Regions from separate parts of the Homo sapiens genome. Here regions 2, 3 and 4 are each linked to region 1. Evidence: fine-mapped QTL for protein levels in blood plasma. A gene starts in region 1. Each other region holds a variant in brackets. All regions are shown on one strand. Distances are between the middles of the regions. Region 1 holds the start of IGDCC4 (immunoglobulin superfamily DCC subclass member 4). Region 2 overlaps IGDCC4 (immunoglobulin superfamily DCC subclass member 4). Region 3 overlaps IGDCC4 (immunoglobulin superfamily DCC subclass member 4). Region 4 overlaps DENND4A (DENN domain containing 4A).

Region 1 (8,210 bases):
CAAATTCTGACTTGGGAAGAAGGGAGAGCCGAGAGCCCCACCTTTGTGCGTGTGATAAGAACAGAGCTCGGCTTCTCGCCACCTGTTCACAAAGGGGTCCCAGTCCCTGACTCAAGAACAGTGTTGGGAGGAGATGGGCAGGCACAGGCATTATCCTAACCCCAATACCAGCCCTTCATTCTGCCTCATGTTTTTTTGTTGTTGTTGTGTTTGTTTTTTTGAGACAGAGTCTCACTTTGTCGCCCAGGCTGGAGTGCAGTGGCGTGATCTCAGCTCACTGCAACCTTCACCTCCCAGGTTCAAACGATTCTCGAGTCTCAGACTCCCGAGTAGCTGGGATTACAGGCATGCACCACCACACCTGGCCAACTTTTGTATTTTTAGTAGAGATGGGGTTTCACCATGTTGGCCAGGCTGGTGTTGAACTCCTGACTTCACGTGATCCGCCCGCCTTGGCCTCCCAAAGTGCTGGGATTACAGGCGTGAGCCACCGCACCCGGCCTATTTCTTACTTTCCTCTCTCTCGCCCCCTACAAATTCAATCTATCCTCAAGTTCTACTGATTCTATTTCCTGAAAATCTCTGGAATGCAGCCACTCCAGCCCAACCCCAACTGCCACTATGCTAGCTGCCACCATCCTCTCTTCTGGATTGCTACAACAGCCTCGAAGGAGCTGGAGCTTCCTGCCTCCAGCCCCACCCAATCCATCCTCCACACTGGCTGGAATGAGATGATGCAAAGCTGATTTTAAATCCTGTCAAGGGCTCATGGGGACTCTCAGGCCAGAAACCTTGGTGGGCCCTGTAAAGCCCTTTGTGAGCTGGATCTAGCTCCCCTCTTCAGCCTCCTGTCTTGATACTCCCTGACCCCTTTCCATGCTTCCCTCACCTGCCCCCCATCCACCCCTTGTCCCTAAACTCCAGCTAGATTTAGTTTAATCCAATGATCTCAACTAAATCACCTCTGAACTTTGCACATGCTGTTCTCTGGAAAACTGTCCCCATCATCATTCTCCTTCTACAGGGCTAACTCCATGTCGAGCTCTACTACTCATCACTTTCTTCAGGAAGCTTTTGCTGACCTTCCCAGATCGGTGTAGGAGCCCCTCCTTCCTGCGTCTTCCCCAGCACTTCAGGGGACTTGTCAGTTTCCCCCTCCACCAGACTGAAAGCTTTGCACCAGGGATCAGGTCTGCCTCCTTATTTACTATATTCTAGGCACTAGGCACAAGCTAGCCTATAAAAGGTGCTCCATAAATATTTGTTGAACGAATGAATGACCTCAGTACAGATCAGGGTGGCTAGTCATGACTCGACTGGAGTGTCCCCCGGCCTGCTGAGATTTGGAGGACCAGGGCAAGCTGTTGTAGCCACTCACACTGCAACCAAGAGACGCCGCAACTCGGTCCCTCGCCTGCTTTGTGCGTTCGGGAGCAGGGAGAGGCCAGGGAAGCTGGGTCCCTCGCGGCAGGTCCTAAAGGTATTGAATAATGCGCCGGTGCGGTTCCCAGCCCTGATGCCGTTTAGCTGGGTGACCCTGAGCTCGTTCCAGGAGCCCTAGGAATAGCGGAAGGTGGGGCAGGGGAACTATTCCTTAATCCCCTGAGCTCTGGGAAGACAGACCTCTCTCTGACACTTCCCCGCCCCTTTCACCTGACAAGCCAGGGCCTCCAGCTCCTCTGGCCCAGCAGCCGAGACCCAGCCTCGCGGCGGCCTCCAGCTTAATCCGCTGTTGGGGCTGGAAAGGGGCGTGTCTTTGTAGGGACAGAAGGGGTCCGAGGAGTTCCCGGCACTTTCCCACCCGCTGTTTGGTTTTCCTGGAGATGGGCCTGGGGCTGGCCAGGCGGAGGCTCCTTCCCCCCGCCTCCCTCCCACGTGGCCTGGCTGAGTCTCTCTGGAAAGCCGCAGCAGCTGGAGAGAAATCCCCCTCCCCACCCCCACCTCCAAGTCCCTCCCCGACTCTCCCCGGACACATCCTCAGCTCCCCCCTCCGCGGGGAAGGCAAGAACTAGGCGAACAAAGCGGCCAGCCCATCCCCCTCCCAGCCCTGCCACCTACACTCCCCATGAGCCGCCCCCAAACGCACACCGGACAGGAAGCGACAGAGCTGTGGGTGGAAGCCGCAGCCCTAGACACACACCCTTGGGGACTTCGCTATCCCCTCCCCAGCCCTTTCTCCAGCTTGGACAACTCTGACTTACCCCGTACCCACTCCGCACTGGGCTGCGGACTGGATGAGGCCCTGCTGACCTCGTCCACGCTTCCCTGGTCGGTCCCTGGGGGGTGGGGCCGGGGTGACACGCGTCCCATCGTGAGAACAAGCGCTGGACATGTCCACGAAAGCAAATGGTTTCCTGCCCCCTCCCCCAGTCCACTGCTGGCCACAGGTTTTGGGGAGCAACACCTCCCTCTACCCCTCTCTAACCGGCCCCAGGGACCACACCCACTGGGCAAAGTTGAGTGTTGTTTTATCACCACCACCCCCAGTCAAACGGGATCCATCGCTCTGTCCCCCACTATGGGCAAGGACACTTCCCAAATGCCAAGGCCAAATATTAGCTCAGCCCCATAAACACAATTGCACACGCACCCGACCCAAATGGAGGTGCAGACACAACCCCAGTTCCCTCCTCTTTTACACACACTCTCAACCCAAGACACGCGCAGGCAAGGCAGAGCCCGCCCCGCGAAAGCCACCGACACCGCAGCTACCCGCCCCGCCGATGCCACGCCGCGACCATGGCACGCACTGCGGACACGACAGGAGCACTCCCAACACACACACACACACACACACACACACACACACACACGACTCCAGACTCTGCGAACCAAAGGCACACACCCACTGCGGACAAGCACGCCCCACAAACGCCCCCCGGCCGCAGCTCGCAGACCCCCGCGCAGGCATCGCGGGCACCTGGACGCGCAGCCCCCGCACTTGCTCGGGACTCCGGCTTGAGCCAGCCCCGCAGCCCGATGCAGACCAGGGCGCGGGCGCACCAGCACTCCGCAGTCGCTCCTGCCTCTCCGGGCGCCCGCCCTTACCGCGCGCGGCCAACAGGCAGAAGGTCAACGCGAGGAGCCCGCGGCCGCGGCCGGCGTCCCCCCGCGCCATGGGGCTGGGCTCGGGCCGCCGCCGCCGCCGCCGCCTCCCCGTGCTTCGGCCGCCGCCGCGGGGGGAGAGCGCGCCGGGCGTCAGTGGCCCGGGGAGGCGCGGCGCCGCGGGCGGGGGCGCGGCCTCGGGGGCCCGGGCCCGAGCTGGGGCCGGCGCGGGGGCCAGGGCCGCTGCCGCCTCACCCGCCCCTCCATCGCCATCTTGGGCGAGCGGCCCGGGAGGGGGCGCCCGGCGAGTGTGGCCACCCTGGCCCCGCCGGGGACCCTGCGCCCGCGCGCCACGGCCCTGCGCCTCGCGGGGGCTCCTCTCGGCCCGGGTCTGTGTCCCGGTGCCTCGCCCTCTCCGGGTCGCCGCGGGCCCCCGTGAGGCCGCCTGTTGCTGGGTCTGTCTCTTAGTCTCCCCGTCTCTGAGTCTTCTGGTCTCTCTGCCTCAGCGTCTCTATTTCTTCTCCCTGTTGCTGCCTCGGGGTCTCCACCTCCGTTCCAGGCTCAGGGGAGGCAGATTCAGGGCCACGGTCTTTGTCCAGATGGCCCCCTTGCCACCCGAGCCCAGTCCATTCCAGCCCAGGTCCTGGCCTGAATGCTGGTTCGCTTCTCCACACGTTGCGCCAGCCCACCTGCGGAGATCTTGATAGTCCTATCTGCCATCCCAAACCAAGGGCTTCTCTTGGCCTCCTTCCCTTGCTCTGGCAGTAACTAACACAGGCAGGACACTTTTACACTACCTTCAAGCACTACCATATTCAGATGTCGCCGCATGGGGAAACTGAGGCTGGAGAAGGTGAAGTGACTTGCCCAAGGACAGGAGGCTAGGGAGCAGCAGATACAGGACCTGAACCTTGGTTTTCTGACTTCGGAAGGTCATCTCCACTCCCTCACCCTGCCTCTGCTGTCCAGCATTTACTGAAGTACCCTTTTTCTCATTCTTCAACGGTACTTTCTCTAACCTACCTAGCCAGACTGTTTGCCTCAGTATCCCGCAAATATTTCTTGTTCTACAGCCAAGGGTTCAATTGTCAGGCTAGGGTGGGGAAAAGAGTACAGATTCAATGACCTAGTTAAGGTCCTTTCCAACTCCAAGATGCCATAGTTCTTCCCTTCCCTGTGTCTCTAAGTGTTCCTGTGACTTAGAGCCATCTTGTCTCTACACCTGTCTGTTGTCAGTTAACCCTCAATAATCACTGGCGCTTTGCATATCTAACAGGCCTGGCGTTTATTCATTCATTGCCACGCCCCATCTTCACTTGCCCTATCAGCAGCATTTGACTTAGTGAATCACTCCCTCTTCCTTGAAACACTTGCTTCCCTTAGTGATCTCATCTGGTCCTCAAGGCTTTAAAGAGCATCTTTATGCTAATGATGCCCAAATGTATACTTTCAGCCTAGACCATCTTTCCTGAACCCTGGACTTCTGTATCCAGCCATCCAGGCCCCAGTTCCTTTAGCTGTCTAGTAGACAAACTCATCCTGATCTTTTCTATCAATCTTTCTCCTCCCACAGTCTTCCTCATCTCAGTTCCTTTCCTGTTGCCCAGGTCAAAAATGTAGAGGCCAGGCTTGGTGGCTTACGCCTGTAATCCCAGCACTTTGGGAGGCCGAGGTGGGAGGATCGCTTGAGGCCAGGAGTTCAAGACCAACCTGGCCAGCATAGCGAGACCCCCATTTCTATTAAAAAAAAATGTAGAGTCATCTCCTACTCTTCATGTTCAGATGCTTCACCCTCCACTTTCTCACTGTGGCCTTGGTCCAAGACCCGTCGCCTCTCACCTGGATTGTCACAGCAAACTCCTCACTGATCTTTTTCTGTCCTTGTCCTCCTTGAGTGTTTTCTCAATACAGCAGCCAGAGTGCTCCTGTTAAAATGAGATCATGCCACTTCTCTGCTAGAAACCCACCAGCGGCTCCTATGTCAGAGCAAAAGCCAAAGTCCTTATTGTGACCCACAAGGCCTATCTGATCTGTAGGCTTGCTCTACCTCTCTGACCTCCCCTTCGACACCACCCCCTGTGCTCACCACCTCTCCAGCCACACCATCCTCCTTGCTGTAACTTGATCGCGGGCAGCCTCCTCCCCTCCAGCCTCAAGACCTTTGTCCGGCCAGTGCAAGTCTAGAGATCTGTTCCCTCATACTGGATACCATAAAGGCTTTCTCACAGCCTCACCCCCTACTCTTCCTATCCTCCTTCCCTGCTGTCTATTCTTGTCTTTAACTGTCACTTTCTTTTTTATTTTATTTTCTTTCTTTTTCTCTTCTTTTTTTTTTTTTTTTGAGACAGAGTCTTACTCTGTCCCCCAGGCTGGAGGGCAGTGGCTCACTGCAACCTCCGCCTCCTGGGTTCAAGTGATTCTTGGGTCTCAGCCTCTCAAGTAGCTAGGACTACATGCCCAGCTAACTTTTTGTACTTTTAATAGAGACGGGGTTTCATCATTTGGTCAGGCTGGTCTCGAACTCCTGACCTCAAGTGATCCACCTGCCTTGGATCCCAAAGTGTTGGGATTACAGGCGTGAGCCAGCACGCCTGGCCAACACTTGTCACTTTCTTTTTTTCTTTCTTTTTTTTTTTGAGATAGAGTCTTGCTCTGTCGCCCAGGCTGGAGTGCAGTGACACGATCTCAGCGCAGTGCAACCTCCGCCTCCTGGTTTCAAGAGATTCTCCTGCCTCAGCCTCCCGAGTAGCTGTGACTACAGGTGCCTGCCACCATGCCCGACTAATTTTTTGTATTTTTAGTAGAGACGGGGTTTCACCATGTTGGCCAAGCTAGTCTTGAACTCCTGACCTCAGGTGATCCACCTGCCTCGGCCTTCCAAAGTGCTGGGATTACAGGCATGAGCCACTGCGCCCGGCCAACACTTGTAACTTACTAATATGCTCTACATTTTACTTATTTTCGATCTGTTCCCCCACCCCTCACAATCACAATGTGTGCTTCATGAGGACAGGGATTTTTGTTTGCTAGGTTCACTGCTGAATGCTAAGCACCTAAATCAGTATCTCACACTGTGTAGGTGCCAGGGGACCTGGATAAAAAATACAAGTCCCTGCCCACAAGGATAGTAGTGTCCTAAGTGGCATGGGGTGGCAGGGAGGATGGAACAAAAGGAGGAGGGATTTACCGTGTGTGGGGTGGGGGGACATGGAGGTTGAGAAGGAAGGCTTCACAGAACTATTGATTGGACAAGTGTGATACGGTCTGTGATGGGGTACAGGGAGGAGGAGCACTCGGGCCAGACCTGTGGATGTTTGACATGGGTCTGGACAATTTAAAAGGCTAGAACTGACAGGGTGGTCAAGAAACTCCCTCTGCAGAGGCCCTGGGCTGTGAGAGCACAGGGAAGTGTGCTCTTCCTGCCTGGAAATGGCATATCCAATCATTGATTCAAGGGGTACCTGTTATGGGTCAGGCCCTGCTCTGGGCACTGGGAGCAGACTGGCGAACAAGAGGAATCTTGCCTGAATGGTGCTTAGGCTACTGAGGGAGATGGACAAGTGTGATACAGTCTGTGATGGGGTACAGGGAAGAGGGGCACTCGGGCCAGACCTGGGGGAAGCAGAGAAGTCTTACAGGAAAGACAATGTAAGCAGAGTGCAGGAGGTGTGGACTGGGCAGGGGAGCAGGGGCAGGACATGAAGCCAAACAGGGAGGCCAGGGCCAGATGGACTGGCCTCATATGTTATCTAGAAAGCAATTGATTTGTCAATTGAATGAATGAACAAGGTGTTGCCATATAGAGAGACTAATTCTACCAGCCACATACAAAAATCTAATTAATTTATCTATATTCATATCTCACTACATGGGCTCTGGGTAGGGAGTAAATGTGAGAGGAGGAGGGATAGAGTTACAGGTTCAGGCCAGCCAAGCCCAGCAGGAGTAAGAACCATAGTTCTTGTCCTGCCTTGGTTACAGACTTGCTGCATGACCTTGGGCAACTTCCATCCTCTCTCTGGGCCTCAGTTTCATCACTGAGACAAAAGGGTTGGGGTATGATGCACATTTCTAACCAGTTCCAAAGAGTTCACAACATTAAAAGTGGATATAGCACCTGTTTTAATGTGTTTTTAAAAATCAATCAGGCTGGGCATGGTGGCTGGCACATGCCTGTAATCCCAGCACTTTGGAAGGCTGAGGCGAGCGGATCACCTGAGGTCAGGAGTTCGACACCAGCCTGACCAATATGATGAAACCCCGTCTCTACTAAAAATACAAAAATTAGCCAGGCGTGGTGGCACATGCCTGTAATCCCAGCTACTCGGGAGGCTGAGACAGGAGAATCGCTTGAACCCGGGAGGCAGAGGTTGCAGTGAGCCAAGATGGCACTATTGCACTCCAGCCTGGGTAACAAGAGCTAAACTCTGTCTCAAAAAAAAAAAATCAATAATAAAATATTCTATTATTTTCCTCTTTCAGCTGGTAACATGGAAAGCTTCCAAGGGTGTATGGGGTGTTCCAGGGTGGTGGTTAGTGGAGGGTCGAGGAACATGCTCAGATAAACATGGTTCACTGTCATGGTTTTTATCATTAAACAGCTTTAACTTATTTTCATACTTGGTCATTTATACACTGTTTAATTTATAGCCATGTGGGACCATAAAAAATATATGACAGGCCGGGTATGGTGGCTCACGCCTGTAATCCCAGCCCTTTGGGAGGCCAAGGCAGGCAGATCTCTTGAAATCAGGAGTTCAAGACCAGCTTGGGCAAAATGGTGAAACCCCGTCTCTACAAAAATACAAAAAAATTAGCTGGGTGTGGTGGTGTGTGCCTGTAGTCCCAGCTACTTGGGAGGCTGAGGTGGGAGGATTGCTTGAGCCTGGGAGGCAGAGGTTGCAATGAGTCAAGATTTCACTACTGCACTCCAGCCTGGGTAACAGAATGAGACCCTGTCTCAGAAAAAATAAACAAACAAATAAAACAAAACTCAGTCACTGACAGGTCAAAAACCAAATTTATTTTTCGTTAGTTTGTTTGAGACAGGGTCTTGCTCTGTTTCCCAGACTGAAGTGTAGTGGCATGATCACAGCTCACCGCAGCCTCAACCTCCTGGGCTCCAGCAATCCTCCCACCTCAGCAGCCCCCAAGCAGTGGTAGGT
Region 2 (8,000 bases), 16 kb before region 1:
AAAACAAGCCCAAGACATAGAGGAGGTCACAACCTCCATTTTACTGGTGAAAAATAGGAGGGTATTTTCCCAGGATCTCACAGGTGGAGCAGAGTGAAAACTCGAACCCAAGTCTTCTGGTGCCAAATGTCATATTTGTCCTACCTGCCTGTCTCGGCAGCCATTGGATGGCTGAGAATGCCCTTGGAGAGGACGTGGTCTCCAAGCAGACCCAGCCAACACGTATGTTACTTAGAAGGGGCATGATGGATGAGGGTGTTCCCTGCCCTCTGGGCTAAAGAAATAGAAAGGTCCAGAGACCTTACTTGAGAAACGATGTAATCTGGGATAGGGAGGTCTCCATGGGGGTTGGGGTGGTGGAGACCAGAGTGGGCTCCGACCTAAGGAGGGGGTGAATGGGTCCCTCGGAATCCTCCAACTGGGATCCCTACAGGGTCAGCTCCAGGTTGAGAATCCTAGTTTCTCAACAGAGCAAATGGTGCTGGCCTCTGGGATGTAGGCTGGGCCAAGGTCAGAGAGGGAAGGGGGCAGTTGTGCGCTTGGTGGAGATCCCTTAGCTCCTGGGGAAGTGGGGTCTAAAAAAATCTAAACATGGAACAGGAGAAGTAGTTCAAAGGCTGGGGAGGAAGAATGTTCTAAACAGGGGCCCTACAAACCTGCTGTGGCCCAAAGACTTAAAGGACTTAGAGAAAAAAAGCATAAATATGCCCTGCTCTTTCCTGCATCACACAGGCAAACCCACCTCTGCCCCCAGCCTCTCACCCTCAGCTCCAACAGCTGCCTACATAAGTGCTGGGGCAGAGCGAGAGAAAGGGACAGGGAGACAAGTGTGGCTGGAGCAAAATCCTGGGCCAGGACCCAGTCTGCTGCCAGAGAAGAACTGACAGGAAAGGACGAATTGGGGAAGGACAAGTAGGACCCACCTAGAAAACAGGCCCCACCCCCATCCATCTAACGTGCTCTTCCTCCAAGACCTTTCTTTCTCCTCTTTTCCTCCCTCGAACTAGCGAGCTGACTATGCTGCTGGGAACTGCCTACATTTCCTAACCCCAGTGTTTCTAGGTCTTTCCAGGGAATATTGTGCTCCAAGTACTCAAGAGGTAGTCTCTCCTTTGAAAAAATAACATTCCCTTAATGATGTGATTGAGTGAATGAATGAATGAATGAACAAATTAATGAATGAATGAATTCCTTTCCCCAGATATGGTGCTATTGCTGCAGCCAATAGAGGCAAGATGGAACCACTTTTAGGGTTCATCTAAAATCTTTTCTGGCCGGGCTTTTTGGGAGGCAGAGGCAGGAGGATTGCTTGAGGCCAGGAGTTGGAGACCAGCCTGGGCAACATGGCAAAACCCAGTCTCTACAAAAAATACAAAAATTAGCCAAGGCATGGTGGTGCACATCTGTAGTTCCAGCTATTCAGGAGGCTGAAGTGGGGAGATTGCTTGAGACCGGGAGGTAGAGGCTGCAGTGAGCAGTGATTGTGCCACCGCACTCCAACCTGGGTGGCAGAGTGAGTCCCTGACTCAAAAAAATCTTTTGCTTTGCTAAAATGTGTTTTTAGAAGCTCTGTCCTTGGAAAAGTGTTCAAAATATATTAGTTAG[TG/T]GGGGGGGGGGAGTAAAAAAACAGTGTTTATGAAGAAATTCTACTTTTAGAAAATAGAGAAAAGTTATATTAGGATATACATAGAAAAAGCCACAGGTGGCAAAGCTCGTGTGGTTTATGGGGGTTTTCTGTAGGAGTGAGATTACGGGGGATTCTTATTTATTGTGCCTGTTAAGTGGGTTTTTTTTTTTTGCAATTAATATGTATCAGTTAGGAAATATAAAAATTTTTAAATGTAAATTGCTAATAATCTGTGCCCTTGTACACTTTGGTTTGTAACTTGGGCTCTAACACAGAAGCACTGTGACATGCTGGAGAGAACTGGTTTCAATGTATGTGATTTTAGCAAGTGACATTCTGTATCTGGGCCACAGTTTTCTCATTTGAAAAATGGGTTAAATAATTCCTGTCCTGCCTTCTTCACAACCCTGACCCTCTTATTGTGTTTTGAGCTCACATTAGATAACGGACATAAACATATTTATGAATTGCAAGCTCTGAACACATGTTTACAATGGTGTAACCCATATACGTATTTCAAAAGACTGCAAGGAGACGCTCAAATTGGTAAAAGCTGTGTTCAGTCAGTAGGTGACTTTTTTCCCCTTTCTGTAAAGTTGGTATACTCTACCATTTTAAGAGAAATTCAAATTTCAAATAAAATAAAAGCTACTTATAAAATGAAAAACAATCTCAACTCGAAAGGAAGGGATGATTCTTTTTCCAGCCTCAAACCTGAGTCTGCTGCTCCTACCCACAAAAGGCCACTTGGGCCCCGAGGATTAAAGAACACAGAAGAAATGACGCAGCTGCTCTGAATTTCCCAAGGGCCAAGGAGCCCCCACCCTAAGCCCTTGAGATCCACCCAGGGCAAGGGGATACTGGCTGGAAGTCACATGAGATTGACAGAAATGGTAACCACTGGGAGAGGGTAGGGCCGGAGCCCATGTTATTTAAGTCCCTTAGTTCCATGTTTCTTAAAATGTGAGTGAATGGCGATAACAAAATGATTTCAAGTGGATCCAGATACATGGCTTTTTATCCTAGAAGTTACATTATTTATTTTTATGGCTATCTTCTATTTATGGCAAGTGTTGCTGGTTTTCCATTTTATTGCAGTGAGATAATGTTCCCTTTTAAAATGTGTTCAAGTTACGAAAGAGCGAGTTGATGTAAAGAAAATTATGAAGTGGTTGTGTAAATGGTATAAGTATGGTCACAATTATGAAGGTGGTTTTTGAATACCTGGGATTTGGGAAACATTGCTCTCATTGATTACTAGTTCCCATGAAAGAAAAATTATCCCCTAGATTATCCCCTATTATTAGAAAATAGTATGAGTACCGGGGATTTGCCTTGGGGTCTAGTCTTTACCATCAGTTCCAAACGAAGCACATACACCCTGACGCAGTGTGTTTATTAACTGCACATGTGCCACGTTACACCAAGGCATACGGTCTCCTTCAAACCACTGGGCTGAGTTTATGAATAGCATATTTGTGCATGCACTATATCTGGGCATGTGTAAAAATACATACCTTGGGCATAATCAAGTTGCTGTTTTAGACATTTCTTTATTCCCCCCACACAATGTGCCGGGACATGCGAGCCTAGCTTATTTATAGATGAGGATCACTTTTCAGAGGACTTGGGGGCAAACACTCCCAGAGTCCAAAAACTGGCAGCTCTGGCCTCCTGGGTTAGGTTTGTGGCTTCACGGGATGACGCCTGAGCTAGACGTTGGGGGTGGTGGGGAGGTCTGAAACCCACTGGTGTGCTGAGAAGCTTTGGGGAAGTAACTTCTCTGCTCCCAGCCACAGTTGGACTACAGATTTCTAAATCCACCATTAATTTTTTAAAAAATTAAAGTTGTAATGTGATACAAACTTCTTCAGACCTCACAGGTTCCGCACCCAGCCACCAAATGACACCTACCAGAGGCCTGTGTATCCTCCACGCAGGTCGCTGGAGTCTGACACTCTGAGTACTAAGCTGTGTGACCTGGGGCAAGTTATTTCTGCCTCTGATCCTCCAATCCCTCATTTAACAATCCAGATAAAAATACCTACCATATCCATATGTACAGACCTGGAAGGATGTTTATCAAGTGGTAAGTGAAAAAAAAATTAAAATTGCAACATAATCCCATTTTTGTTTTTGAAAAAAAAAAAAGATGATTCAACAAAAAACCTAGTATGTACAATATAATTTATTATTATTATTATTATTCTGAGACGGAGTCTTCCTCTGTCACCCAGGCTGGAGTGCAATGGTGTGATCTTGGCTTACTGCAACCTCTACCTTCTGGGTTCAAGCGATTCTCCTGCCTCAGCCTCCTGAGTAGCTGGGTTTATAGGCGCCTGCCACCATGTCCAGCTAATTTTTGTAATTTTGGTACAGACGGGGTTTCACCATGTTGGCCAGGCTGGTCTTGAACTCCTGACCTCAGATGATCCACCTACCTCAGCCCCCCAAAGTGCTGGGATTACAGGCGTGAGCCACTGCACCTGGCCTAAGTTTTGTATTTTCATTCCAGCCTGGGTGACAGGTGAAGTGGCTCAATTTTGGCTCACTGCAAGCTCCACCTCCCGGGTTCAAGTGATTCTCCTGCCTCAGCCTCCTGAGTAGCTGGGATTACAGGCATGCGTCACCACGCCTGGATAATTTTTGTATTTTTTTTTTTTTTAGTAGAGATAGGGTTTCACCATGTTGGTCAGGCTGGTCTCGAACTCCTGACCTTGTGATCCGCCCGCCTCAGCCTCCCAAAGTGCTGGGATTACAGGCGTGAGCCACCGCGCCCGGCCTAAGTTTTGTATTTTTTGAGAGATGACATTTCACCATATTGCCCAGGTTGGTCTCTAACTCCTGAGCTCAAGCGATCCGCCCGCCTTGGCTCCCAAAGTGTTGGGAGTACAGGCGTGAGTCACCGCGCCCAGCCATATTGATATGAATTTTAAAAATGCATCTGCTGGAATATCAATTAAAAGTAAATAGAGGAAAATGTGAAAATAAGAAATACCTACATTAAAGGATGATTGGAAGGGTTAAGTGAGAAAACATGTAAAAGGCTCAGCACGTGCCTGGCCCAAGGTACACTCCCATTAAGTGGTTCATGTTGTGACTTTCAACATGGGGAGATTTTGCTGCCTTCTGCTACCCTCTCTGGGGGGCATCAGGAGTAGGCTCTCGCGTGGTTCTCTCCTGCCTAGCTCATCTGTTCTGGGTTCATGGAACTCCCAGGAGGCACCCATCATCACACAGTGGTGACAGGCTCCACATTTAGAAAGGCACAGAACTTCAAATGTCAGTGTTAGAAAGGCTGGGTCAGCATTTCCCAGGGTTCACCCTCTAGAATGCTCATTCATGGGATGTTAAGGGGCTCCTGGGCAAACGAGCCTAGGAAGTGCTTCGTTAAACAAGGTCAACAGGATTCTCGATACAGCACTTCTCAGGGCCTTGCCAACTCCAGGAGGGAGATTTACAGGCAGTTTCCTGTTCTTATTTGATCATAGAATACTTCATTCAAGAAGCATTTAAAGGGACTAACATTCTATAAAGGCCACGCTTTGGGAAACCACAATCTAAATCAATTTTCATTTGTTTCCCCCTTTCATTTTATAGGTGGGAAGGAGAATAGACTGGGTGAGAAGTGACTCTCTGAGGACCAGTGGGGCTAACCCATCACCAAAGTCAACAGGATGTCTCTCTCTTTTTTTTTTTTTTTTTTTGAGACAGGGTCTCGGTGTGTCACCCAGGCTGGCTGGAATGCAGTGGCATTATTCCAGCTCACTGTAGCCTGAACCTCCAAGTGATCTCGCTCAGCCTTCCAAGTAGCGGGGACCACAGGCACCACACTGCCACACTGGGCTAATTTTTGTATTGTTTTATAGAAACTGGGTTTTGATATTTTGCATAGGCTGGTCTTGAACTCCTGGGCTCAAGTGATCCTCCTGCTTCGTCCTCCCAAAAGGTTGGGATTACAGGCATGAGTCACCACACCCAGCCAGGATCTCTTATGTATGGACCTCTCACCCTCTTCCTCCCTCACAACTGTCCTGTGGCTTTTCTACCCCGAAGTTTCTCCTACAACCCCCATCCTTACCTACACATGGGCAAAAGTCAGAGGAGCTGGGACAATGCAACACAGGCAACAGAAGGTTGGATCCAGGGGAGAAAGGGCAGTGTTTCAGAGCCCAAGGAGCCCCACCTCCACCAGGACGGGAGAAGGATCTAGCTGGTAACTACAGCTACCGAGATATAGGGAGAGGACTGCAGGGTGGCTGGGAAAGGCCTTGGAGCCACATTTCCAAAGATACGTAAGAATCCAGGGGGTGATGACTGAGTCATGAGACCAACTCAGAGACCACAGATGCAAATGAGCCTTGTGGTTTCTGGTACGCTGCATACACATCTGGACCTACCCAGGAAGCCACAAGAGGGACCAAGTCCAAGGTCTAGCCTCTGCTTCCCTTCCGCCTTGGAAACTCTTCCCTGGGATTGCTCTACCCATCCATTGCCTTTACAGGGAAAGAGGAGAGTGAAAGAGGAAAGACCTCTACAATTCACTTCTCAGAGGGCTACGCCCCACTGGATGGAATTGAGAGAGGAAGAGAAGTTATGCATCTAGAGTGGAAACTCCGGAGGAACCCTGAAAAGAGAAAACCTTCCCAGCAGCCTCGGGGAGCCCTCAACAGACAACCAACATTCTGCCAATGGCTCATGGTACGGCTTGGGATAAGCCACAGCTCCTCTCTGGCCTTCAGTCTCCACAATAAAGCAAGTGGTTGGACTAGATGTGCTGGGAAGGACTCTACTACTACACCTACCCAGGCTCCACAGCTCAATGGGTGGCTTCCTCCCAGGGAGCAAAAACTTCTTGTCCAACTTCTCTTTGGGACTAGACATGAGCCAGGAGTCAGGCGGTGGTTAACACTCAAGTCAGCTTAGGTAAATGCAGCTACCTCGACTCTAAGAATCTCAGTTCTGAGCACACCCCAGAGCCCTCTCTGCCCTGCCTACCAGGACCCGCTCCCCTACAGGGCACTCACCGAGGCTCCTCAGGCAATGTCACCTGGTCCTTCTCCCAAGTAATGATGGGAGCTGGCAGCCCTTCAATGTGGCACTCAAAGCGAGCTGTCCCGTTCTCCTCCACCGTCTGAGACTCCGGGTGCAGAGAGAAGTCTGCGAGTGCTGGGGACAGTGAGACACAGGCAGGGACGGGAAAAGAATAGGAGAGAGAAGCCACAGCAAGCACAAACAGTGAAACACATCCGCATGGAGACACAGAAACACACAGTCACAGAAACACACAGCAGAGCCAATTCAGACCGAGGGAGACACAACAAGAAGTGGTGATTAGCGGTCAGATACTGCCAGCAGAATGAATTCCAAAGCCCCCCTGCCCAACATCATCATGATGGTCAAACTATACAGTAAGATGCACACTTCTTCTGGCCTGAAAGTTACTTCATGGTGATCTGTGCCTCCTGAGAGCCCCCTAAGGGGTAAGGCTGGAGCGTGGGGTTTGGCTCCACATGTTCCACCTGCCGTGCAGGCAGGAGCTCCCTTAGGAGGCAGCTTTGTGCCTCTGACACAAAGGGGGCACTCTGGCAGGCTCCCTGGAGGACAGCACAAGCCCAGACTCTAGGACTCAAAGGGAAAGAAAAGCAGAAGGAACAGGGGAGTGGAGAAGAAGCGGGAAGATTATGGAATACCCAAGAATGAGGATAGACAATACCAGGAAGAGACCTATTGAGCAGGATGGGAGGCAGGGAAAGGGGGAGTGGGATCAAGAGAGAGGCATTTGTGCAAGTAACTAACTGCAGATCCCACTTCGCACACCCCAAGTCTGGGTTTCAGCCTCAGACCCCCGCCCGATGCAAGCACTTACTGGCAAGCTTGACGACAGCAGTCTGGCTGGCCAGCACTCCGAGGGGGCCGTGGGCTAGGCACGAATAGTTGCCTTCAATGACCCCCACAGCCTCAGGGACTGACTCGTCACTGCCATTGGGTGCTAGTGGCTGGGACAGCCACAGGGAACCATTGGGCAGCAGGTGTAAGTGGTCGTGCTCCAGCAGGGTGTCCCCATCCTTGCTCCAGGTCACCCTGGTGGGGGGTCCAGCGGCAGCAGCCCCCAGGCTACAGTTTAGCACTGCAGCCTGCTCTGGGCCCAGGATCACTTGCAGTGGCCCCACTCCACAGCTCAGCTCCACAGTCGTCTCCTGGGGCAACAGCAGCTCCCCTGCATAGAGGAGGAGCACGGGGCCATCAGTGTATGTCCCCCCACCTCCCACAGCCTCTGCTCCTGAGTCACCCATGCAGGGGCTGGGGCAAATCAAGGAGAAACACCTGCATCTGGATCCTGGCTCTCCCCTTACTAACTGTGACCTTGGAC
Region 3 (8,210 bases), 25 kb before region 1:
TCCGACTCCCGTACCCTGCTCAGGTCTCCAGCAGCCCTGACAGCTCTTCACGTTGATCATTCCCATACATGCCTGCAGCCCACCCACCCCCACTCACCTTCCTTTCCCAAACCGTATTCTATCTTGTACTTCACCACCTGCCCATTGCTCAGGCTGGGGGGCAGGGGCAGCCACGCCACCCTGATGTCCGAAGGGTTGGGGCTGGACAGGGAGAGCTGGGGTGCTGCACTGGGGACTGAGACAGAAGAACATCAGCATGAGCTCTGCTCCACCGACGTGGAAGGTGAGGCTCGGGAGCGGTCAGAGACTTGCCTGGGTCACACAGCAAGTCAGAAGTAGGCCAGGACCAGGATCTGAGGGAGGAAAGGGAGCTTCTCAGGGGAGCCCCAAGCTGAAGGATGAGGGGACATCTTTCCCACCCTGAAGCTGGAAAAAGTCTTGGAGCACAATCTTCCACGTCTAATGGGTTAATGTCACTGGCCCCTACCCCAGCTGGATGGCACATAGGTGTCAGGGAGAACTGCATGACACAGGGAATCATCACAGACCTGGGCTTAAGTCCCAGCTGAACTACTGACCTGGGCAAATCATTCTCATTTTCTGGGCCTCAGTTTCCCCAACTGTGAACTGAGGAGAAGAACCCCGCCCACTCTCTTACGGGGCACAAAAGATGATATGAGCAGGTAAAAATGCCTTTACATTAGTAAAGAGAGGGTGAGCTCCCCTCCCCAGGGAATTCTCTTTACCCCAAGCTGCCCACTGCGAGTTCAGAGGCCCTACCATCATCCAGTGTGTGCACCAGTGCTGGGGTGGAGGTGCGGCTGGCTCCCAGCTGGGAGTAGGCCACCACGTAGAACTCATAATCTGTGTTGGGTTCCAGGTCCCGAACCTGTAGTTCTGTGGTGTCGTTGTTCACTGCAAACTGGTATTCCACATTGTCCATGCCTGGTGACACGGGGGACAAGGGGACTGTCATAGTGCCACCCCCCCGTGCTGGCTAGCTGGAGTCTGTATAGGAATCCTTCATATTGTCCTGGTGTCTATTTATAGCTAAATCATCCCAGATAATCTGAGCTGGAGTGTATAAACTCCCTCAGCTTCCTGTCTCAGTGTATTAATTCCTCCACTGGTTAGGGAGTGCTTTCTGGAAATGACCCCCCTCTCCAGTTAGTTAACTGGGATGGGAGGTGGCTCCAGGAACGTCCTCTCCCTCCTCTCTCAACAAACATGACTGAGGGAAGCAGTGGCCCTTCCAGCGCCAGTTGCCTAATCCATACCTACCATACTTATGCGGGTCTCTCCTATGGGCTCCTACCCCAGTCCATCCTTGCCGCAGAGGTACCCATCAGGCAACCCTTCAGTCATCCGACCTGAACCCCTTCTGGCTGCGCCCCGCCCGGGCCTGCGCTGGTGCATCCCGCCCCAGGCCGACGTACCCCGTGCCTTCTGGTAGTGGAGAGAGAAGCCGATGATCTGCTCGCTGTGCATCTCGGGCCGCTCCCAGGCCACCAACACAGCGGAGCTGCTCAGTGGCGTAGCAGTGACCCGCGTGGGGGCGCTGGGCAGCCCCTCGCGCACCACCACGGCCAGCGACGCGGCAGCGCACGCCATTCCCGCGCTGTTCTCAGCCACGCACTGGTAGTAGCCGGCGTCCTGCAGGCCGATCTGTGTGATGACCAGGCTGCCACCGCCGCCCTGGACCTTGACGCGCCCGTTGGGCCGCAGCGGCGCCCCGTTGTGCAGCCAGCGCAGCGCTGGCCGCGGCTCCCCCGACGCGCGGCACACGAAGCGCGCTGTGCTCGCCCGCGTCCGCGACAGCGCCTCGGGCGCCTGAGTGATGGCGGGAGCCGCTAGGGGCGCGAGGGGCGACGCTGAGCGCGGGATCCCGCAACTAAGGTCTCTGCCCCCCCCCCAGTACCCCAAGCCTGCCCCCCACCGCCCTCCCTCGCTCCCCTTCCAATCACTTTAACCTCTCCCTGATTCACCCTTTCCAAACTACTCCGGCTCAGCGCAGACCTACCCTTTCTTCTCCCCATTTACCCCAGCCCCACAACGACCATTCTCTTTCTCTCCCAAAACTGTCCCCAGGCCTCCTCAGCCTCCCCTAAATATTGCTCCTCCCGGATCTAACCCCACCCCTAAATTTACCCATCTCCTTCCTCCCTGCCCTCCCATATGTCCCACACCTACCAGATCTACCCTGCCCCCCAGTTTTCTTAGTACCACTCAGATCACTCCACTATCCCCACAATAACCCCAGTCACAACTCCCCGCTAATCACCCGCTCCAGGCCTTAATCACCCCTCTCGCTCCATCCCAGACTCAACGCCCCGCACTCCGTCCTCCAGTTACCAAGTCCCCATCCCTCGTCCCACCTCCGCCTTACTAGGGACTCCTCCCTGAGTTCGTCCTCCAGGAGAGCGCCTGAGTGCCCCCAGCACACCCACCCGTCCACCTCCCCCTGCTCTATTCACCCCAGCCCCAGCTAACCCGCTCCCTCCGCCCTTCGGCCCGCCTCACCCAGCACACGGAGCTCAGCGGCTGCAGTGGCGAAGTCGCGCGTGCGGGGCTTGTTGGCGCGGCAGACATAGACGCCGGAGTGCCAGGGCTGCGCGTTGGCAATTAGTAGGTTGGTGCGGCCCAGGACGATGACATCTGTGGAGATGGGCTTCCCGTCTGGGGAAGGAGAGGGAGACGCGCTGGAGGGGACGCTAGGGACTGCCCTTCCCTTCAGTCTCCGAACCTCAGGAACACTCTGCACCCGGATAAAGCAAACACAACCGTCCCTGGTCCGAATCTCATTTCCTCCTCTTGCTGGGACTCTCTGAGCCCGGCTGTCTCCATCTGTAAGGGGGAATTAGCCCTTAACTGGCAGGGTTTCCATGAGGATTGAAAGAATGTCAGAACCCCTGGCACAGTGCAGGCATATATTAATCATAGGTGCTCAGCACACTCGTCAGTTTTCATTACTGAATTCATTTCTCTCAAGAAGGACATGCTCCTTCCCTGGGGTCCCAGCCCAGTACTATGATGAAGCTAGGGCTGGTAAGGTCGGACCAAGCCAACGATTCGAATGCGCACAAAGTTTTACCTCAATGTGAAATGAAAACCATTTAAAAAGCCCTTGCCTTGTAGACATGAACAGAAAATCTAGAGAAGCAATGCAAATAGCCAAGAAACACAAAAATGTTCAACTTCATGTCATCAAAGAAAGGCACTTCAAAACAGATGTTAGGCTGGGCACGGTGGCTCATGCCTGTGCTCTTGGCACTTTGGGAGGCTGAGGTGGAAGGATCACTTGAGACCAGGAGTTCAAGACCAGCCTGGGCAACATAGTGAGACTCCGTCTCTATAAAAAAAAAAAAAAAAAGATATTAAAACACAGATGTTAATTTTCACCCATCAACTTGAGAACATTTTTAAAAATAGTAAATTGCAATGCTGGAGAAAGGGCCATAAAGGAGCTTCACCTAGGCCTTGAAGCCAAGGATTCCATTTATGTGTACCTGTCCTAGGAAGATGATCAGAAGTACAGGCAAGTATTTGTGAACAGAGCAGATCACTGCAGTGTTAACTGTAACAGCGGATAACTGGAAAGGACTTAAAAATCCAACAGCAGGAACTGGTGAATTACATTATAGCTATATTTAAAGTATGGAATATTAGTCATTACAATTTTTTGAAAAAGTTTTAAAGATAGAGAAATGCTTATGGTATACTGTTGAATGAAAATAGGACTTGGAACTATAAATGCGGCACATGTTCTCAATTTCAGGGAGAAAACTGTACATAGGCATAGAAAAACCTGAAAGAAGATATACTGGTACATAAACAATTTTTATCTCTGAGTAGTGGAGTGTTTGAGTGTTTTCTGCATCTATTTTTTTCCTAGTTTTCTACGGTGAACATGTACAACATTTGCAGTCAGAAAACAAAACAGCCGGACACAGTGGCTCACACCTGTAATCCCAGCACTTTGGGAGGCCAAGGCGGGTGGATCACTTGAGGTCAGGAGTTCGAAACCAGACTGGCTAACATGGCAAAACCCCATCTCTACTAAAAACACAAAAATTAGCCGAGTGTGGTGGTGCATGCCTGTAATCCCAGCTACTCGGGAAGCTGAGACAGGAGAATCACTTGAACCCAGGAGGCGAAGGTTGCAGTAAGCCAAGATCACACCACTGCACTCCAGCCTGGGAAACAGAGCAAAACTCCATCTCAAAAAAAAAAAAAAAAAAAAAAAGAAAGAAAAGAAAAGAGAGAGAGAGAAAGAAAACAAAACAGGCCGGGAGCGGTGGCTCCTGTCTGTAATCCCAGCACTTTGGGAGGCCAAGGTGGGCGGATCACGAGGTTGGATCACGAGGTCAGGAGATGGAGACCATCCTGGCTGACACGGTGAAACCCAGTCTCTACTAAAAATACAAACCATTAGCCAGGCGTGGTGGCGGGTGCCTGTAGTCCCAGCTACTTGGGAAGCTGAGGCAGGAGAATCGCTTGAACCGGGAGGCGGAAGTTGCAGTGAGCAGAGATCGCGCCACTGCACTCCAGCCCGGGCGACAGAGCGAGACTCTGTCTCAAAAAAACAAAACAAAACAAAATCAAAAACAAACAACCCATGCCCCTTCCCTGACTTAGTGGAGTAAGTTCCTGGAAAGAAAGCAGTACTTGGGGTCAGGAATGAAGCTCCTTTCCAGCCCTTCTCTTCCTAGGTGTCAGGATCCTCCGGGACAGCAATTCTCAAATCCGTACTGTGCACACGAATCACAGATTAGCAGGGGACCTTGTTAAGATGTAGAGGACTGAGGCAGGGCCCCAGATTCTGCATTTCTAACTAGTCATAGGTAGTAGAGCTGAAGAGCACACTTTCAGTTGGAGCACCGGGCGCAGTGACTCATGGCTGTAATCCCAGCACCTTGGGAGGCCAAAATGGGTGGGTTGTTTAAGCCCAGGAGTTTGAGACCTGCCTGCGCAACATCTAGAAACCCTGTCTCTACAAAAAAATACAGGCATAGCGGCACATGCCTGTAGTCCCAGCTACTCAGAAGGCTGAGGTAGGAGATCACCTGAGCCGGCAAAAGTTGGAGGCTGCAGTAAGCTGTGATTACACCATTGCACTCCAGCCTGGGTGACAGGCAAAAAAAAAAAAAAAAAAAAAAAAGATTCCTGGAACACGACTCTCCGGGGTGAAGAAAGGAGTCTGCAGTTTTAATAAGTCCCCTGGGTAACCCTGATGCATAATCAGGAATTAAGAAATATTGACATTAGAACTTCTAGGTGATACCACAAGTTTATCCCAGTAGTACAAGGGTCCTGCTGGCCCCCTAAGTAGGCAAGTGTCACAGGTCCAATGAGGCAGTGCAGGTCAGATAGGTGCGAAAATGCCAGCACTGTTCTATTTTATCAGCTCATTGGTGGGTACATATTAATAGTTGTTCAATTTATTTTCTTTAAACTATATATATTCGTGATATACACTTTTGAGTATGAGATATAAACTTATATTTTTAAAGATGTATAGAGTAATAGAATGAGTTGGGGAAAGGGGTAAAAAGAACTGGATTTAAAACTTACTTCTGCCATCAACTTGGGACAAGTCACTTTTTAACAACAAATGGAAATAAAAATAACCCTTGCTTTCTTTTTACAGGACTGTAGGAACTGGCATACCAAAAAGAGAACAGACTTGAAAGCTTGGGTCCCAGCTCTTCCACTGCCTCTCTGAGCCTCAGTTTCTTCATCTGCCCACTGGGAATAATAGTTCTGGCCCCTCCTCTCCCCAGAGGGCTCTTGGAGGCTGACAGGAGAACAGGTGTGAAAGTGCTTAGGAGACTGCACAGTGAAATTTGGCCCAGCACTGGCGTTACCCTGATGGCATCTCCAGTCACTCAGTGGCACTTCTCACTTGTAGCCTGATACTGTCAGACCTCTCTTCATAGATGTGTGTTTTCTCTCCCTCACTAGACGATGAGTTCAGAGGGCAGGGTCCCTGCCTCTCTGTGTTTTGTTCACTGTGCCCAGTATGATACCAGTCACACAAAGACAGCAGTATGCTGGGGTGGACCCAGAGCTTGCCTTATAGTTGCACGGACCAACAGAGGGGTCTGGTTCCACCTAACTCACTGGCTGTGTGGCACCTTCCCAGCTCTCAAGTACTCACTTGTAACACCGTTGTGAGGAACAGAAATATGTAATTATGGTGGAGAACCTAGCTCAGCACCTGGCCTCAGGAGGGCTGCAATAACCGTTCTGTAAGTGGCAGCTTGGAAGTGCTTTTGTAAAGCACATGCTACACAGAGTGACAAGGAAGTCTGTCCAGTTCCCCACGCAGCTCCGACCTTGACCACCACACCCAGCCCTGGGAAAGGAGTTCGTGCCACACCAGAAGGTTCGTGACCACTGGGTCGTCACCCATACATCCCCCTGACTTAGGGGCATGTGAGATGCCACATCCCTCCCTTCCCATGCCCTCCTTCTCCCACCCCCTCCACTCACCTTGTCGGACCCAGGACACAAAAGGGGTGGGGTCAGCTGAGGCCACACATTCCATCACCACACTCTGGCCAGACACCACTGTGGTGTTCTCTGGGGCTGCCACAATGACCACGT[C/T]CTGCCCCCTGGTGGACGCCAGGGACCCTGGCGAGAAGACAGACCAGCAGGCAGCCTTACCATTAGGCATTTGCCATGCGATACCTCACCTGAGTCTCACAGTAACCTGGTGAGGTGGTACCGGGGACAGCAGCAATGATTCCATCTGTCAGATGGGGGACGTAGCCATAAAATTCAGCAGGGCTGGGACTGGACCTCTGAGCTGTTTCTTTTAGAGCCAGAAGAATTGCCTAGGCTTCAACTCAGCACCAGAGAAATGATTAGACAGACCCACACCTACCTCCATTCTTCCCTCCCAAATGCAACCCACCATCTAGGCAGAGGACTGTCAGGGTCATGGGCAAAGCACCAGACTTGGAGTCAACAGTTATAGTTTCTAGTTCCAGCACTGCCATTAACGCACTGGGTGACCTTTGGCAAATCCCTTCTCCAAAAGGCCTTGGATTTCCCAGTGGAAAAGGCAGACAGTGGGCTTGAGTTTCTGCCTGTGCGGCAGTTCCCTAAACCCTGATTTCCTGCCAAGTTCTTTGTGTGACCCTGGCCCCCTGGGTGGAGTGGTGAATATCTGGATTGTCCAGCAGGTGGAGGCAGATACCCCTTGAACAGAAGAAAGACGACACCAGACTGGGAGCAGCCTACCAGCTAAGCCCAGAAGGAACAGGATGGGGACGGGGTGGGAGTGCAGAGAGTGGGTGGGAGGTGGGAGGGATGCATGGCAAAGGGAAGCAAGGGAGGTGCCCCTGGGGGAGGCTTGAAGTGAGATCTGTTGAGCACCTGCCAGGTGCCAGGCACTTTCCATTCTTATCTCAAGGACTCTTCGAGCCTCTCTGAGCTGGGCATTTGATAAGGAGCCCAGGGTCATGCAGATGGTGAGCAGAGAAGGCAGGATTCAAACCAGGTCTTTCCAACCCCAAAGACTGTGCCCTTCCTAATCCATCACACTGGGGCAAGAGCTTTTCAAAGAAACGAGTAAAGGATAAGAGCACTAGGCCACAGGTAGCCAGATTTGCAAGGCACAGAAAGCAGAGAGGGACGAACCCCCAGTGCCTGGACCCCTCAGTGACTATAGAAGGGCAGGAGAGAAAGGGGCAGGGAGCAGGGCTTCCGGGCACTGACACCGCCTCAGATGCCTCGCATCCCCACCTCTGTCCCCAGCCTTCGACACTGCATCCAACCAGAGGGCACACAGGCTCTGCATGAAGAGAGGAGCCCTGCCCTTGGAGTCTGGGGTCTTGTGTTCCAGCCCAGTTCTTTCTTCTCTGGTTTGCTGGGTGGCAGTACCCTCTCTGGGCTTCATCGCCTCACCAGTCAATGGGACTAACATTTATCACCTACTTGAAGGCAAGGCCTGGACCCCTTGAGGTCCCTCCCAGCTCTGAGGTGGCTGGTTCCAGAAACCCCCAGGTTTCCCCACCCAGCCAGCCCCCTTACCTCTGTGGGCCACACTGAGTAGGGCCTCCTGGCTGAAGTGCTGGCGAGCTGAGTTGGTGGCCACGCAGCGGTAGGGGCCTGCATCACTCTCCTGAACATCCAGGATCTGAAGGACGCCGTTGGGAAGCACGATGAGCCTTGGGAAGAGGGGAGCAGGCAACTGTGAGGTGGGC
Region 4 (8,000 bases), 320 kb after region 1:
ATTTGGAATGCCAAAGCATTATATATATGTTCATCAAATAACACTGAATACTTTGGTAGGATTCATAGAGATTTTAATCCTTGAACATTACAACTATTAACTAACTGCTTAATATTTATCAAGCTTCATCTATAAAGGCTATGTTAAAGCTAACAAGAAAAAGATATCCTATAGAAATGCACAAACATACTCCTAAAAATTCAGCTTGTGGTCACACTACCTTAGAAAGAATACTAAGTTTTTGAAATTTTCAATATGGTTTATTTTCATCTATCTACTTCATCAGCTCTCAATAACTTTTACACATTAAAATTCATATCCCATAGGAGTATATGTTAATTTCTAGCACAAATACAGGAAAATTTTTCATAAAAATAGAAGAGTCACATATTTACAATGTCTTAGGAATAGTATCAACTCAAGCTCAGCTTCTAAATAACACCAGGTTATATGAAGATAGAGTTTTAAGTTGCCTATGATTTCACATTAGGTAAACTAATGTTTACATTAGGAAAACGGTCCAGGCATCTTCCACTGAATACACTCCAGGAAGAACCTTGTACCTCATTTTGTGGAACTAGAAACAGAAAATAGGTTCCCTGGCCATAAAGCCCTTAAAGTCAAGTAGAAACTATCACTAGACAGCCACAAAGACAAAAAGATAAACTGGGGGAATATAAGTGGTTGTTGGTTCTGCCACTAATATATCTGTGGCTTTGGACAAATGACATACTACAGGAGTATGGTTTTCTCATCTATAAAATCAGATGAAGTAGATAAACTAAGGTCCAAGGCAGTTCTAAAATTATTTAATTACATGCTAGCCAGCAAGTAGGTCCCATGAGGATCTATAGTTAACTCTGTACTACTCTCTCAGGTCATGAGGTAATTAATAAAGTCATAAAGTAAGTATAGAAATAGTGATGAAGGCCGGCTGGGCGTGGTGGCTCATGCCTGTAATCCTAGCACTTTGGGAGGCCGAGGCGGACAGATTGCCTGAACTCAGGAGTTCAAGACCAGCCTGGACAACACGGTGAAACCCCATCTCTACTAAAATACAAGAAATTAGCCAGGTGTGGCTGTGTGTGCCTGTAGTCCCAGCTACTCGGGAGGCTGAGGCAGGAGAATTGCTTGAACTCGGGAGGCGGAGGTTGCAGTGAGCCAAGATCGTGCCACTGCACTCCAGCCTTTCAATGGTTGCACCCATTGGTAAACAAAATAGAGGAACGGATTCTGGTAGTGAGAATGACTCATAATCTTCTTGAGGATATCCACAAATTAGGCCTAGGGCAACACAGTGAGATTCCATCTCCCAAAAAAAAAAAAAGAAAGAAAAAAAAAGAAATATTGATGAGAGCCAGTAGCCAGCACAGCAGCTCACGCCTGTAATCTCAGCACTTTGGGAGGCTGAAGTGGAAGGATCACTTGAGCGAAGGAGTTCAAGAGCAACCTGGGCAATACAGCAAGACTCCATCTCTACTAAAAAAAAAAAAAAAAAAATTAGCCAGGCACGGTGGCACATGCCACCATGTACTCTCGGTAGTCTCAGCTACTTGGGAGGCTGATGTGGGAGGACTGCTTGAGCCCAGGAGTTCAAGGTTGCAGTGAACTATGATCCCACGACTGCACTCTAGACTAGGCAACAGAGCAAAACCTTGTCTTTAAAAGAAAAAAAAAAAAAGGTGATAAATTGTAGATCTAAAAATATCAAAGGCCGGGTATGGTGGCCCTCACCTGTAATCCCATCACTTTAGGAGGCTGAGGCAAGAGGAGCGCTTGAGCCCAAGAGTTTAAGACCAACCTGGGCAACCTAAGAAAGAC[C/A]CTGTCTCTACAAAAATTTAAAAAATTAGCCAGGCATGCTGGGACACTCCTATAGTCCAAGGTACTAGGGAGACTGAGGCAAGAGGATACCTTGAGCACAAGAGTCTGAGGTTGCAGTGAGCTACAATCATACCACTGTACTCCAGCCTGAGCAACCGAATGAGACCCCGTACCCCCCCCAAAAAAAATCAAATGTAAAAGAGAAACTTGAGTCTAGAACTCTAAACACACACGTATATAAATGTATATGTATATATGTATATATTTTTAAAGATGGGGTCTATGTTGCCCAGGCTGGTATATATGTATATATTTTTAAAGATGGGGTCTATGTTGCCCAGGCTGGTCTTGAACTCCTGGGCTCAAGCAATCCTCCTGCCTCAGCCTCCGAAAAAACTGGAACCACAGGCACATGCCACCATGCCCTGCATAAAAGCAATTTTTAAAAGGCTGAATCTGTTCTCTTGTAAATAAGGTCACTATGTTTGGTATTTTGAGGTCTCTGAAAATTGGACATTTTGACTATGGATTATAAAACTCCAAATTGGTTTATAATATTTTCCATTATTATGAAACATGATTTCATGTGAACTACAGCTCTTACTAAATTTAAGTATTAAAGAAATATTAATTTAAAATGAAAATACATTTTACCATATTTCTGCTGATTTAAAAACTTAAAGATAATTGAGATCTTATTATTTATTTAAACCCAAGGCTTAAAATAAAAACTCACCTTATTTTAAAATTAATCTTCCATCAAGCATCCAATAAACATATAAGTGAAGACAAAAATGAGAATCAGAAGATACGGATTGTAGTCCCAGTCCTGATACTAACACAGACTAGGCAGGTTTCTTTACTTTAACCTTTCCGGGCCCTATAATACATTTATATATGAAGTATTGCATGAAAAATTACACTTACCAGCTTTGTAAGATACAGTGTTCGTCTTTGCCACCGATTTTTTATAACACAAGTATACTGCTGATCCCCACTGGATTTAAAAAAATAGAAATATCATTTAATTTTTAAAAGGTAGGAACTTGATAAAATGGAATCTCTTTGAGCTCTCTAGTATGTATTATCTAATATGTAGTAACAAATTTCCCTCTGCTAGCTATTTTCAGTTGGCTGTTTTGTCAATATTTTATTGGAATCACTGTCCACTTTTCTTTCAGAAGTAAATTACTACTTTTTTCCCCTTGCAACAGCAATAACATGAGGAAAACTTGACTCTTTTAAACAAAGCTAAGTCACAACCATTTAGATTTTATTCTGAGTCCAAACTGTGGGTATAAATGATAAACTATAAAGTATCTACTCAAGTGCATACCTTTGACTCCACAATCTGTTTCAGATATTGCCAGGTTTTTCTGCAATCCTTTATGCCTCAAGAGTTGTAATTTGTTAAGTCCACTTCCTTATTTCCTACTTTCTCCCAAATTCATTTCCAATCAGGCTTTAATTACCACTCCTTAAAAGAATAACTTAACTTTCAAATCTTTTTTTTTTAAATGGAGTCTCGCTCTGTCACCCAGGCTGGAGTGCAGTGGTGCGATCTTGGCTCACTGCAATCTCTGCCTCCTGGGTTCAAGTGATTCTCATGCCTCAGTCTCCCAAGTAGCTGGGATTACAGGCACGTGCCACCATGACTGGCTGATTTTTTTTTTTTTTTTTGAGATAGAGTCGCAATGGTGCAATCTCAGCTCACTGCAACCTCCGCCTCCCAGGTTCAAGTGATTCTCCTGCCTCAGCCTCCTGGAGTAGCTGGGATTACAGGAACATGCCACCATGCCCGGCCAATTTTTGTATTTTTAGTAGAGATGGGGTTTCACCATGTTGGCCATGGTGTTGGCCAGGCTGGTCTCGAACTCCTGACCTCAGGTGATCTGTCCGCCTCGGCCTCCCAAAGTGTTGGGATTACAGGCGTGAGCCACTGTGCCCAGCCTCTTTTTATTCTTAAGATTATTTATCATTACATGCTATATTTGTTTGTTTATTGTCTTTCTGACTTGAATATATGCTCAATGAGGGTAGGGATTTTGTTTTCTTCACCACTGTACTCCCAGAGGCTCACACATAGTAGTTAAATAAGTTTTACTAAATAAATATATACATAATTTATTTAAAAGTTTTGAAATAAGGGTAAAATAGTTTTATGAAACACATTCCTTACACAATCCATGCACATGAAGAAGTGTAATGTCATTGATAATTAAAAGGAGTATATAATAAGTTTTTATTATTACAATTTAACGTGATTTGTACAACTCCACCCCTAGTACCCTGGATTGCAATAATCTCCCAAACGGTCTTCCTCCTTCCACCTTTGCTTCCCGCCACAGTCTATCACTACATAAACGAGTGATCCTTTTAAATCAAATGTCAGAGCATGTCACTATTCTGTTCAAAATCTCAGTCTCTCTCAGAATAAAAGCTAAAGTCCTTACAATCACCTAAAGGCCCTAATCATCTACCCCCAATTCCAATCTCTTTATTCTCCCCATAATTTATTCTGCTTTAAGACACACCATTTTCCTTATTGTTCCTAAAACATGCCAGGAATGGTCCCTCCTTGAGGCCTTTTGCACAGACTGTTCCCTATATTTCAAACATTCTTTGCCTGTGATATCTGAATGATTAACTTCCTTACTGCCTTCAAATATTACTTTCAAATAAGGGCTTCCCTGACCACTCAATTTAAAATTGCAACCCATTCCCCTCTACTCCCAATCCCCTTTTATGATACTTTTAGGTTTTCTTTTTTACTACAGCACTTAACACTTTCTAACATACTATACTTTAAAAGTTATTTGTTTAAAATTTATTATCATCTATTTTCCTCCACTCTGATAAGTTCTACATTCTGTTATCATTAATACCTAAAACAGTGCCTGGTGCATTACAGGTACTCCATAAAGTATTTGCTGAATGAATTAATCTTGGAGCAGAGGTTTCTAGGTAGAAGGAATGTCAAGAGGAAAGGCCCTGATACAAAAGTATGCCCGTCATGACCTAAGAGCTAAAGAGGCAATGACAGCAGAGAAGAGTAAATGAAATACTGATGGGAGATAAGGAAGCCAGATCATGTGGGTCCTTTTAGGCTGTTTTAAGGATTTTGGCTTCTATTACTCTTGGAGATAGTGAAAGCCACTGGAGGGTTTTGAGCAGAAGAGAGGCATTATCTGACATACAGTTAAAAGGTCACTCTGAGTACTATGTTGAGAAGTGGGGGTGGGAGACAAGGAAGAAAGCAAGTACTCATAATTATTTTGTATCAGTAATCCAGGCAAAAATTATGAGAGTTTGAATAAGGGTAGCAACAGTGGGAATGATGAAAAGAGGTCAGATTCTGGGTATATTCTGAAAATACAGACAAAAAAAAATCCTATCTGATTATATGAAGTACAGTATAAGAGTCAAAGATGATGCCAATGCCTGAGTAACAGGAAGGAAGAAACTCAATTGAGATGGAGAAGACTGTGGATAAAGCAGGTTTGGGGTGAAGATAAGGGGTTCAGTTTTAGACATGTTAAGTTTGAAACATCTATTAGACATCCAAGTGAAGAACTAAATAGAGCTAAGGTAAGCGGTCTGAAATGGACACACAAACTTGAGAGAGGTCACCATTTGATGTATAGGTGATGAGAGAAATTTACATGGCACACTTCCTCACCTCCATGGGGTATCAACTCAAACATCATCTTATCAGAGAGTCTTCCTTTCACCATTTTACATATAATAACAAGGCTCCCTCCACCCTGCCCAGTCCTCCCCATCACCCCTCTCTTGCATTTTTTTTCCTCCTTAGCATGTATCACCATTTGGTGTATTATATATTTTCTTAACTATTATCTGAATACAAAAAAGTTTACTTACATAAGACTAAGTAAACATTAGTGGGTAGCTCTGAGAGACTCATAAAGTATAAGCTTTTAGTGTCTGAACTTTGTATCTATTTTGAATGTACAGAAGCCTTTTTGTTGGCTTGTTTCTCATGTAATCCTTTCAAGAATTAAATAAGAATTGTACTTGAGTCATTTCTGAATAAAAAATGCATTATATACCTGTCAAAAGCCAGGTGACAAGAGGTGACAAGTAGTTACTTAAAGGTAACGACTAAAACTTTGGAAAAATATCAGTATTACAGAAAATACAGACAAGTTACATAAGTATTTTCATGTAAGAAGCCAAGTGTCTGAATATAAATTATTTTCCAACTTTGGTTTCTCTGATATTTAGTTCACACTCACTTAATCAAGTTCTCATTTAGATGTACTTAAAAATCTGATGAATAACAATGAGAAGATATCATAAATAGCACTATATGATCATTTAATAATATTTTATCAAGAAATGACAATCTCCTGAGTATTCAAAAACATAAATCTTTGCTTTTCAACTTTAAGTATCTGTCAGCCTTCCAAATACTGAATAGCTAACAGCATAATGTGGTCAAACTAAAGTGAAAGAGAATAATATTCAAATATCTCTCTTATTTAAAACACACAATACACATAAAATAATATGTCTGGCTATCTGCAAATATCTTACTAAAAAATAAAAACCCTTAACCTTTTATTTTAATATAGTTTAATGAATTATGTTGAGATTGTAGCCTTGGGAAATTTTCTCTTGATGGAAAAATATTAAAGCATTTATAAAAATAAAATCCCAACACAGCAATGAACATAAGCAACATTTAACACACTAATCTACTGGAAAAATATTTTTTAAGTCACATGAATATGTAAAAGTCAAGCAGATATTATGAATATAGGCAAACAAATTTTGGTTTATCAAATGGATAAAAAAAATTTTATAAAAATGGGCTCTCTATTGGAAAGTCCCAACTCTACTTCCCAATAAATCCAATTTGTAAAGATAGCAAGAAAACTTCAATAATAACTTTGGTGACAATAAAAAAAGAACTATATGACCATTTGGATATAGTAGAAACCAAAAGGAATATTCTATAATGAAAAACAAGGAGTTAGAAATGCAGTATAAGTTACGGGGCTCTGTAGGAAAGAGAACCATGGATATTAAAATTAAGAGCGGGGCCAGGCATGGTGGCTCATGCCTGTAATCCCAGCACTTTGGAAGGCCGAGGTGGGCGGATCACCTGAGGCCAGGAGTTTGAGACCGGCCTGGCCAACATGGTGAAACCCCGTCTCTACCAAAAAAAAAAAATACAAAAATTAGCAGGATGTGGTGGCGGGCACCCTTAATCCCAGCTACGCAGGAGGCTGAGGCAGGAGAATCCCTTGAACCCAGGAGGCGGAGGTTGCGGTGTGCAGAGATCATACCATCGCACTCCAGCCTGGGCGACAAGAGTGAAACTCCGTCTCAAAAAAAAAAAAAAGGAATTAAAAGCATTTTCCAAATTTTTTTACACACAAGGTTCAAGGTGAAAAAAGAAGGAGGCATTGTTCTAAAACTACTTTAAACTCTCTACCAATAAGTATCCACATTGTGGTTTGCCACAGCAAAAACGTACTTTCAAATTCTTCCTCTTTCCCCCAGAATTAGGTACATGATTTAATTACTTCCCTTGTTAACAATTCTACTTTTTTCTCTTTTTTTTTTTTTTTTTTTTTTTTTTTTTTTTTTTGAGACGGAGTCTCGTTCTGTCACGCAGACTGTAGTGCAGTGGCATGATCTCGGCTCACTGCAACCTCTGCCTCCCAGGTTAAAGCAATTCTCCTGCCTCAGCCTCCCGAGTAGCTGGGATTACAGGTGTGCACTACCAGGCCTGGCTAATTTTTGTATTTTAGTAGAGACAGGGTTTCAGCATGTTGGCCAGGCTGGTCACGAACTCCTGACCTCAAGTGATCCAACTGCCTCAGCCTCCCAAAGTGTTGGGATTACAGGTCACAGCACCCGGCTCAATTCTACTTTTCTAAGTAAACTCGCTAAATCAAATGCTGACATTCTTGGACAGTTGTAAAACAAGAGCCATGTGGAAAGAGTATTTAAAAAATACCCTTAAGGAGACTCAGCCAGGTGCAGTGGCTCACATCTGTAATCCCAGCACTTTGGGAGGCCGAGGCAGGCGGATCACTTGAGATCAGAAGACCAGCCTGGCCAATATGGTAAAACCCTGTTCTCTACTAAAAAAATGGTAAAACCCTGTCTCTACTAAAAAAAAAAAAAAATACAAAAAATGGCCGGGC

The links. A credible set is the group of variants that fine-mapping cannot tell apart. PIP is the chance, under the fine-mapping model, that this variant and not a neighbour inherited with it causes the effect. Sun 2018 read protein levels with aptamers (SomaScan).
Region 2: its variant is the best candidate, but not a certain one, in a credible set for the plasma level of the IGDCC4 protein (Sun 2018, PIP 0.66).
Region 3: its variant is the best candidate, but not a certain one, in a credible set for the plasma level of the IGDCC4 protein (Sun 2018, PIP 0.73). The variant lies in the coding sequence of IGDCC4. If it changes the protein, the assay may bind it differently, which can mimic a change of level.
Region 4: its variant is the best candidate, but not a certain one, in a credible set for the plasma level of the IGDCC4 protein (Sun 2018, PIP 0.88).

Annotation. Positions count from the first base shown.
Region 1 is chr15:65,419,745-65,427,954 of GRCh38, forward strand. It overlaps IGDCC4 (immunoglobulin superfamily DCC subclass member 4), which reads right to left and starts at 3,203. Exons shown (of 20, transcript NM_020962.3): 1 at 3,049-3,203. The coding sequence starts at 3,118. RefSeq lists enhancers at 2,106-2,215, 2,236-2,505, 3,481-4,015.
Region 2 is chr15:65,403,524-65,411,523 of GRCh38, forward strand. IGDCC4 (immunoglobulin superfamily DCC subclass member 4) reads right to left here. Exons shown (of 20, transcript NM_020962.3): 2 at 7,497-7,847; 3 at 6,655-6,796. Among named protein-coding and RNA genes, the nearest start is that of IGDCC4, 15 kb to the right of the region's middle. RefSeq lists an enhancer at 7,076-7,733. The variant TG/T (reference allele first, on the strand shown) is at 1,606.
Region 3 is chr15:65,394,314-65,402,523 of GRCh38, forward strand. IGDCC4 (immunoglobulin superfamily DCC subclass member 4) reads right to left here. Exons shown (of 20, transcript NM_020962.3): 4 at 8,038-8,174; 5 at 6,493-6,633; 6 at 2,521-2,676; 7 at 1,437-1,850; 8 at 781-945; 9 at 98-235. Among named protein-coding and RNA genes, the nearest start is that of IGDCC3, 20 kb to the left of the region's middle. The variant C/T (reference allele first, on the strand shown) is at 6,607.
Region 4 is chr15:65,738,967-65,746,966 of GRCh38, forward strand. It overlaps DENND4A (DENN domain containing 4A), which reads right to left. Exons shown (of 33, transcript NM_001320835.1): 5 at 2,749-2,818. Among named protein-coding and RNA genes, the nearest start is that of MIR4511, 24 kb to the left of the region's middle. The variant C/A (reference allele first, on the strand shown) is at 1,822.